Linked DNA regions of Homo sapiens: region 2 is reported to be linked to region 1. The links are microRNA targets in miRTarBase. Many come from high-throughput screens and were not tested one by one. Region 1 holds a microRNA gene; the other region holds the end of a gene's coding sequence.
The links. The annotated mature microRNA hsa-miR-6881-3p reads AUCCUCUUUCGUCCUUCCCACU and lies in region 1 at 1,235-1,256, shown strand. An mRNA with a match to its seed (bases 2 to 7 or 8) in the 3' UTR can be bound and repressed. Matches are read on the target gene's strand: a 7mer-m8 pairs with bases 2 to 8, a 7mer-A1 pairs with bases 2 to 7 and ends in A, and an 8mer does both.

Region 1 (4,176 bases):
TCTGTACTATCTTTGCAACTTTTCTGGGAATCTAAAATTACTCCAAAATAAAAAAAAAATGTATTTAAAGTAAATATATTCCCTAAGAGTCCAGGAGGCAGGGGAGTTGTAGAAGCAGCTGAGTGGTTGGGCTCTGACAGATTTGGGTTCCAACTCGGTCTCTGCTGCTCACCAGCTGTGTGACCTTGAGCAAGTGGCTTAGCCTTTCTGAGCCTGATTTCCTTATCTGTGGAGTGGGGAAGATGACAGCCACCTCGCAGGGCTGTGGAGGGTTAAACGAGGTGATGCATGGACAGCAGCCGCACTGACCTTGCTGGTGTGGGGCTCCTGCTTCTGTTCTTCCCGTGCAGCCTTGGGAATGTTGGAGGCCGTATCCAGGGACCCCTGGGCCTCCTGGGATGGCCTCTCTGGATCAGCCTTGGAAGGTTCCAGGCTGCCCTTAGGCTCCCACATTCTTCCCCAGTCACGCTCTCCTCGCCCTGCCCACACCAGTCCTGTGACCCTTGCCTGAGTTGTGACTTCCCACCCCTCCCCGGCCTAGAGGAAAGCTGCCTGGCCCCTCAGTGGGACTCCCGCCCACTGACCCTCTGTCCACCATACACAGACAGGGGCACTATCCACAAGGTGGTGGAACCGGGGGAGCAGGAGCACAGCTTCGCCTTCAACATCATGGAGATCCAGCCCTTCCGCCGCGCGGCTGCCATCCAGACCATGTCGCTGGATGCTGAGCGGGTGAGCCTTCCCCCACTGCGTCCCATGGGCTATGCAGTGACTGCAGCTGAGGACAGGGCTCCTTTGCATGTGATTTGTGTGTTCTTTTAAGAGCTTCTAGGCCTTAGGGCCTGGACATTTAGGACTGAGTGTGGGGTGGGGCCCGGGCCTGACCCAATCCTGCTGTCCTTCCAGAGGAAGCTGTATGTGAGCTCCCAGTGGGAGGTGAGCCAGGTGCCCCTGGACCTGTGTGAGGTCTATGGCGGGGGCTGCCACGGTTGCCTCATGTCCCGAGACCCCTACTGCGGCTGGGACCAAGGCCGCTGCATCTCCATCTACAGCTCCGAACGGTACGTTGGCCGGGATCCCTCGTCCCTGGGAGAAGGTGGGCATGGGAGAGGGGGAGGTGTTGTCGGGCTGGAGGAGGTGGCGGTACTGGGCCTTTCTTGTGGGACCCTCCTCTCTGCTGGAACTGCACTGGGGTAAGGATAGGAGGGTCAGGTCTGCAGCCTTGTATCTGCTGATCCTCTTTCGTCCTTCCCACTCCAGGTCAGTGCTGCAATCCATTAATCCAGCCGAGCCACACAAGGAGTGTCCCAACCCCAAACCAGGTACCTGATCTGGCCCTGCTGGCGGCTGTGGCCCAATGAGTGGGGTACTGCCCTGCCCTGATTGTCCTGGTCTGAGGGAGACATGGCCTTGTCCTGTGGGCCCCAGGTACATGGGGCAGGATACAGTCCTGCAGAGGGAGCCCTCTTGGTGGGATGAGCGAGACGGGAGAAAAAAGGAGGACGCTGAGGGCTGGGTTCCCCACGTTCATTCAGAAGCCTTGTCCTGGGATCCCAGTCCGTGGGGAGGACACATCCTCCCCTGGGAGCTCTTTGTCCCTCCTCACGGCTGCTTCCCCACTGCCTCCCCAGACAAGGCCCCACTGCAGAAGGTTTCCCTGGCCCCAAACTCTCGCTACTACCTGAGCTGCCCCATGGAATCCCGCCACGCCACCTACTCATGGCGCCACAAGGAGAACGTGGAGCAGAGCTGCGAACCTGGTCACCAGAGCCCCAACTGCATCCTGTTCATCGAGAACCTCACGGCGCAGCAGTACGGCCACTACTTCTGCGAGGCCCAGGAGGGCTCCTACTTCCGCGAGGCTCAGCACTGGCAGCTGCTGCCCGAGGACGGCATCATGGCCGAGCACCTGCTGGGTCATGCCTGTGCCCTGGCCGCCTCCCTCTGGCTGGGGGTGCTGCCCACACTCACTCTTGGCTTGCTGGTCCACTAGGGCCTCCCGAGGCTGGGCATGCCTCAGGCTTCTGCAGCCCAGGGCACTAGAACGTCTCACACTCAGAGCCGGCTGGCCCGGGAGCTCCTTGCCTGCCACTTCTTCCAGGGGACAGAATAACCCAGTGGAGGATGCCAGGCCTGGAGACGTCCAGCCGCAGGCGGCTGCTGGGCCCCAGGTGGCGCACGGATGGTGAGGGGCTGAGAATGAGGGCACCGACTGTGAAGCTGGGGCATCGATGACCCAAGACTTTATCTTCTGGAAAATATTTTTCAGACTCCTCAAACTTGACTAAATGCAGCGATGCTCCCAGCCCAAGAGCCCATGGGTCGGGGAGTGGGTTTGGATAGGAGAGCTGGGACTCCATCTCGACCCTGGGGCTGAGGCCTGAGTCCTTCTGGACTCTTGGTACCCACATTGCCTCCTTCCCCTCCCTCTCTCATGGCTGGGTGGCTGGTGTTCCTGAAGACCCAGGGCTACCCTCTGTCCAGCCCTGTCCTCTGCAGCTCCCTCTCTGGTCCTGGGTCCCACAGGACAGCCGCCTTGCATGTTTATTGAAGGATGTTTGCTTTCCGGACGGAAGGACGGAAAAAGCTCTATTTTTATGTTAGGCTTATTTCATGTATAGCTACTTCCGACTGCATCTGTATGAAAATACCAAAACTACATGCGGGGGGGTGGGTGGGAAAGGGAGGGGCTGGGAAGGGATGGGTTGGGGAGCGGGGGTGATCCCAGTCTGAGGCTCCCGGGGATGAGATAAGAGTCTGGAGACGGGCATGGGTTCTTGGAGAGTGGCATGAGCTGGCTCTGCCCTGGGAGCCCGGTCTGAGGGGGACGTTGTTGGAGCCCCTAGTGTTGGGGGTGGTTATGGGAGGGGGTGGGGTGAGGGAAACGGGAGAATGAAGGAGAAAACTGAGCCCTAGTTTCACCGTGTTCATTTGGAAGGACGAGCCGGGTCCTCAGGGGGAGGTTCCAGGACTCTGCCCTTGGCGTTGAGGGTTGGGGGGCGGGGGGCCTCCTCCCTTCCTCTCAGCCCCCTTCCCCAGGGGCTGTGCTTCCATGCTCCTAGCCTCCCACCTTCGCTCAGGACATGTTATAACTTAGGCTAAACTGTGAAAATTCCGGTGGGGATGGCCTGGGCCGAGCTCTCCAGGCAGGCGGCCCTGCCCCCAGCCCTGTCCATCCATTTCAGGGGGGAGCTGGGCCCTTCTCCGGCTGTGTCTGGCCACCCAGGGCAGTGGCTGGGGCCAGTGGCCTTCCAGCTTTGGCCCCTGCACCTCTTCTCAATGCACTTTAATAATGTAACATATTACTAATAAACAAGCTATTTATTTACCTGCGCCTGTTCCTTGCCTGCAAAGCTGTCCTGGTCAGGGGGTGTTGGTGGGGGCTCCTGTTTATTACTCGCCACCCCCTGGCTGCGTGAGCATCACATGCATTCTTTCATGTCCTGGTTAGGGCCCAGGAGCCAGCTCAGCAGGGCTGTAGCTAGTGAGAGGCAGGAATGGGGACCTGAACCCACGACTCCTCAGCAGCGTGCTGCTTGCTCGAGCCTTGACCCCAGAGCCCCAATAGCACGTGCACCCCTTTTCCCCATTCCCAGCCTTCACCTCCCACCACTTCCCCCTGGAAGGCCTGGCCTGGGTCATGCTAGAAACAGCCTCAGGACTCCCTGCCTTCAAGGGGCAGTTCTGGAGGGCAAGCTGATCAAATGCGACCCTGTGGGATGCTGTGGCCTTGAGTGTGTGTGCAGGAGGCTGGTGCCGGCTGAAGAGATGTGGGAATGGGATTTGCTCCAGGCAGGGTAGGGGTCTGGGTGAGGGTTGGAGAGTAGGGAGGGACCTGTGGGGAGGGTTTATGAGTGATGAGGTAGGATTTGAGTTGTAGAAACTCAGGACTCCCTCCAAGATCAAGTAAATAGGTTTTAGAACACAGAAGTTTATGCAGGAAGGAGCCTCTGAGGCTGGGGTGGAAGGATGCAGGGGAGTTAGTTAGGAGGCTGTCTGGTGGCGGGTGGAGGTCAGGATGAGAGCAGTGGTCCTGGGATGAAGGGCAGGGACAGTAGGGAGCACTGCAGATAGAAGTCCAGATAGAAGCCCAGAGGCCTCCCCTCCCCCTTGTTCCCTTCTCTGTCCCCTGTCCCTGGAGGCAAGGACCTAGGCCTTTGGGGTCTGCTAGGCGTT
Region 2 (4,000 bases), not on the chromosome of region 1:
TTCTAAACACTCTACTGATTGACTCCGAAGCCTTCACAAGAACCCTATGAGGTAGGTACTGTTATTAACCCCATTTTACAGATGAGGAAATTGAAGCTGAGTGAGATTAGGTAATTTGCCTAAGATCAGACAGCTAGTAAGTGGCAGAGTCAGGATTTCAACACCAGCAGCCTGGCTCTAGAGGCAATGTTCTTCTTAGACATTATGCCATCCTGACGCTACTTCTTTTCCTACTTTCCATTTAAAGACAACTGAAAGCTGTAAGCAAGGAGAAACTTTCCATGTTCTATAATCCTACCCAGACACAAGGCTCAGAGTGGGCTCAGGAGGAAAGAGGGAAATGGAAATGAAAGGGTCTCAACCTGAGAAAATTCAGTCTTGAAAGCGGAGTGATGGGACATAAATCATGAGCCCAGAACAAATTGGGGGAGCAGTGAGTCAGAGAGAATCTCCTTCCACTGGGATTTTAGTGGAAATCTCATTTTTAAAATGCAATATAAAAAATTAGGGAGTTGCTGGGTAGAATGGAACATGGAGGAAATGTTCAAAGTTGGAGCAAAAAGGTCCCTTCTCCCTCTTCCCTCCAGGGAAATATGGGAACTGTGAGAGGCAGCAGGCAAGTTATGGGCAGAGGCAGATACAATGAGTTCATGTGGGAAATTTCTGGTCAGACTAGCTCTGTGGTTCCAAAGGCAAAGACTGCACCTTGGGCGAGATGAATGCCCTTCGTTGTCTTTATCACTAACACTTCAAATGGGGCAAGCCAGGACATACTAGCAGGTCAAAGGCCCAAACAGCGGAGGCCTACTACCTCCTGAACAGAGCTCCACCTGGACCTGACTCAAGGAACATTTATATGCAACTGAGGAGCTTTTGTTTCATTTCATTTTGAATAGTCAAGTCAGTCTTGCTTTCTTTAGGTAAAGTTTTACAGTAACCTCCTTTGTAGTCCTTTGAAGATGAGGATTTGAGAAATCCCAACTCCTAAAGTAGGGGAGAGACAGCAGCAGAATATGACCCACAGCCAGACCCAAAGGGGCTAGCCCGACCCCTGTATATATTGTACCTCTCTCTCTGCCCACCTCTCCCCCACTTCTCCCCACTGCCCCATTCTCTCTTATCCTGCCTATTCCTCTCCCCTATTTCTCTGTCTCTCTCTCTCTCACATACACACACACTCACTCACAAGCAGTACAGTCACTAAGTTGGCTAGGTAATATCCAAAGCATTCTGATTGTCCTACTTTTTGTAAATTGAACTTATTTAAGATATTTTAGAAGAGATGAGTCACGTCTTCCTTTGACCCTTCACCCATAACACACATACCATTCTCACAGGAGGCCACATGGTGCAGTAGAGTCAGACTTTGATTCAAAGCCCAACTCTGTCACGTGACAGTAGGCTTGAGTTTCCTCATCTGTAAAAAGGGAAGATTTCCTACTTCATAAAGTGGTTGGAGAAATTAAAGAAATAGTATATGAAGCCTTGCACATAAAAAGCATTTGATATATATTAATGCCCTTTTGCACAAGAGGTCAAGAATTGCTTGGGTTCTACCTAGAAATCAAGAGCCTTATTTCTGAGCTGGGTTACTTGGCACCTGTGTTATTTCTCTCTCAAAACTACATAATGGTAGGAGGAGTAAAAGAAAAAGTCCCCGCCTCCCAGAGAAATTGAAGGATCCAGAAAGAAGTGCTTATAGCAGGGAATGTCTCCCCTCACCTCCTGTATGAACATCTCTCTCCTTCCTCCAGTATAGGAGGGTCTGCAAAGCTAAAGGAAGAGTTCCTTTGTTACAAGATAGAAAAGTGGTGCCACTTTAAAGATGATTTCTCAGTGTTCTCCTTAGATACCAAATACAAAGGACGAGGGATCAAGCTCAGCGAAAGTATCAGGCATTTAAGGTATCAGGCAGCAATGCGGGGAAAGGTGAATTTTCTTCAATCAGCATAGGATGGTTAGGGAAGAGCATTTATCACTTTGGTTCTTATCCTTCAAGCCAGGGGAAAAGCAACAGTGAGGACATCAGAGACAAAAGCATTTATAGAACTAACAAACACAAACGTTTGACAAGTGAGAAAGCTTTATTAAAGCACACATACATGTCAGGGGGGTGGGAAACAAAAGAGCAAGTTACAGCCCGGGATCCCAAGTTATGCCTTCCATTACAATTGCAATCCACACCAAATCAATCTTTGAAAACATTCCTCCATTCGGTTCATACATACAGTAGAAACCACTGTGGCTGCCCTTAATCCAGTGTGCTTATAGGAAATCAGTTAGCAGCTGACTCTGTTGAAAGGGATTTCCTCTCTGCTATACACTCCTTCCACACACAACTTTGGGTAGAAACGCTTATGAGAATAGAAAGGTCAGTTTGATCAATGAGTACCAGAAGATGAAACTTAGCTCACTAGACCCTTCTTTGAAAAGCCTCAACACACTACACCCATGTAATATGTAGGTCAAATTTAGGAAACAATAGCAAAAACAGGAACTGAAAGCTCATCAAGCAGGAAGTCAGAATAACAGGGAGACTCTGTCTACATTCCCTTAGAGCCCTTAACAGTCCCCAGCCTGGAGAAACACTGGGCCAATTGAGATAACACTTGGCTCTTCTGGTTGACACAGTGGGATGTAGACCATGCTCTGTTTGATAACACACCCCAGACGCAAACACTAAGACAGATGTGGTACATGAGGATGAATATATCTCATCTTTCATTCGAGAAATGAGGAGCTCTCTCTCCAATGACTGCAGTATCAGTTTAAAATGCAGAAAATTCAGCATGGGCTGTGAGACACTTTACCCTCAGTCACTCTGGTCCTCTGAGATCAGCTAGAAGCTCTCACTGGGCATCCTCGTGATTTAGTCAAAATACATTATCTAATTAAAGTGCTTTTCAAAAGCAGCTCCATTATAAGAGTCCCCCAAAGGTCTAGTAAAGATATCTAGAACTGGAAAAAGCTTGGGAATTCTGTTAGCATTTCAAAGAAAAGCATTAGACCAAAGCAAGGTGGAAACTGCTTAAAAACTAGAAAAGTTAAATTTAAAAGCCAAGTTCCAGAAGTTTATCCAGGTAGAAAATAAGTTAAAAGCATAAATTGGAGAGGAGAAAGAGGAAGGAACTACTCACCTCTCCCCAACATTCCTGTCTTTACTAACCAACCCTGCTTCCCAGAGCCTTAAAACCCAGACTGGTCCTAATGCGAAAGGTAGCCAGGGCTTCCTAGGGAAGTAGGAACAATGATAGCAAGACAGAAGATAAAAAGTTGTTTTAAAAGCTGTTTTTAAGTTAAGTGAACCTTATAAAGACATAAGAAAAAATGGACTCTGAAAATAAACTAGATTATACACAGAAACATTTTAAAGAAATGCTTATTCTTGAGACTGCTTTAAAAAGAAGAACAAGTCTGCATCACTCTAGCCAGCATAATGAGATTTGCAGAAAATACATGTTTGTACACATACACACACACACACACACACACACATACACACATACACACATACACATTAAATTATAAATCTTTGCTCTTGATTTCTTCACTTCCTCTGACCTGCCCTCGCCAGGGCTGGACCTGCAGAAGAGGACAGGGACTCATAAACCCAGCTTCTGCTTGGCCATTGAGGAACGGAGCTGCAGAGTCCCTTCTGCCCAAGACCCTGGGTACTGTCGCATCTTCTGCCACAGGCTCACTTCTTCCCCAGTCGAGTCCATCCAGTCCACCACTTCCCCATTACTGATCCCTGAGGAGAAACACCAGAAGAGGCTAAAGAGGGGCCCCACTCTCAGCCCACCAGGGAAGATGGGTTGTACAGCAAGATTAGCCACCCCATAACAGTTTCCTACGAAGATGGGCTAATGGCCACAGCAGTCTGGGAAGTGCTCCCTCACCTGTATTCCTGAGACTCTGTCAAGAGACTCTGGGTTGATGAAATCAGACTCCAAATGGCACACAGTCACTAGAGACTTCTTATTCTGAGGCTGTTACAGAG

Region 2: miRTarBase lists SYTL4 as a target of hsa-miR-6881-3p. Seed matches in the 3' UTR shown: 7mer-A1 at 3,552-3,558 and 7mer-A1 at 2,307-2,313.

What each region holds. Positions count from the first base shown.
Region 1 is chr15:74,408,441-74,412,616 of GRCh38, reverse strand. It overlaps MIR6881 (microRNA 6881), which reads left to right and starts at 1,185; the gene lies at 1,185-1,260. SEMA7A (semaphorin 7A (JohnMiltonHagen blood group)) reads left to right here. Exons shown (of 14, transcript NM_003612.5): 11 at 605-732; 12 at 907-1,061; 13 at 1,261-1,322; 14 at 1,632-3,328. The coding sequence ends at 1,993. RefSeq lists enhancers at 1-467, 468-968, 2,974-3,233, 2,877-3,377.
Region 2 is chrX:100,672,426-100,676,425 of GRCh38, forward strand. SYTL4 (synaptotagmin like 4) reads right to left here. Exons shown (of 20, transcript NM_001370165.1): 20 at 2,066-3,751. The coding sequence ends at 3,603. SRPX2 (sushi repeat containing protein X-linked 2) reads left to right here. Exons shown (of 11, transcript NM_014467.3): 11 at 1-3,363. Among named protein-coding and RNA genes, the nearest start is that of SRPX2, 30 kb to the left of the region's middle.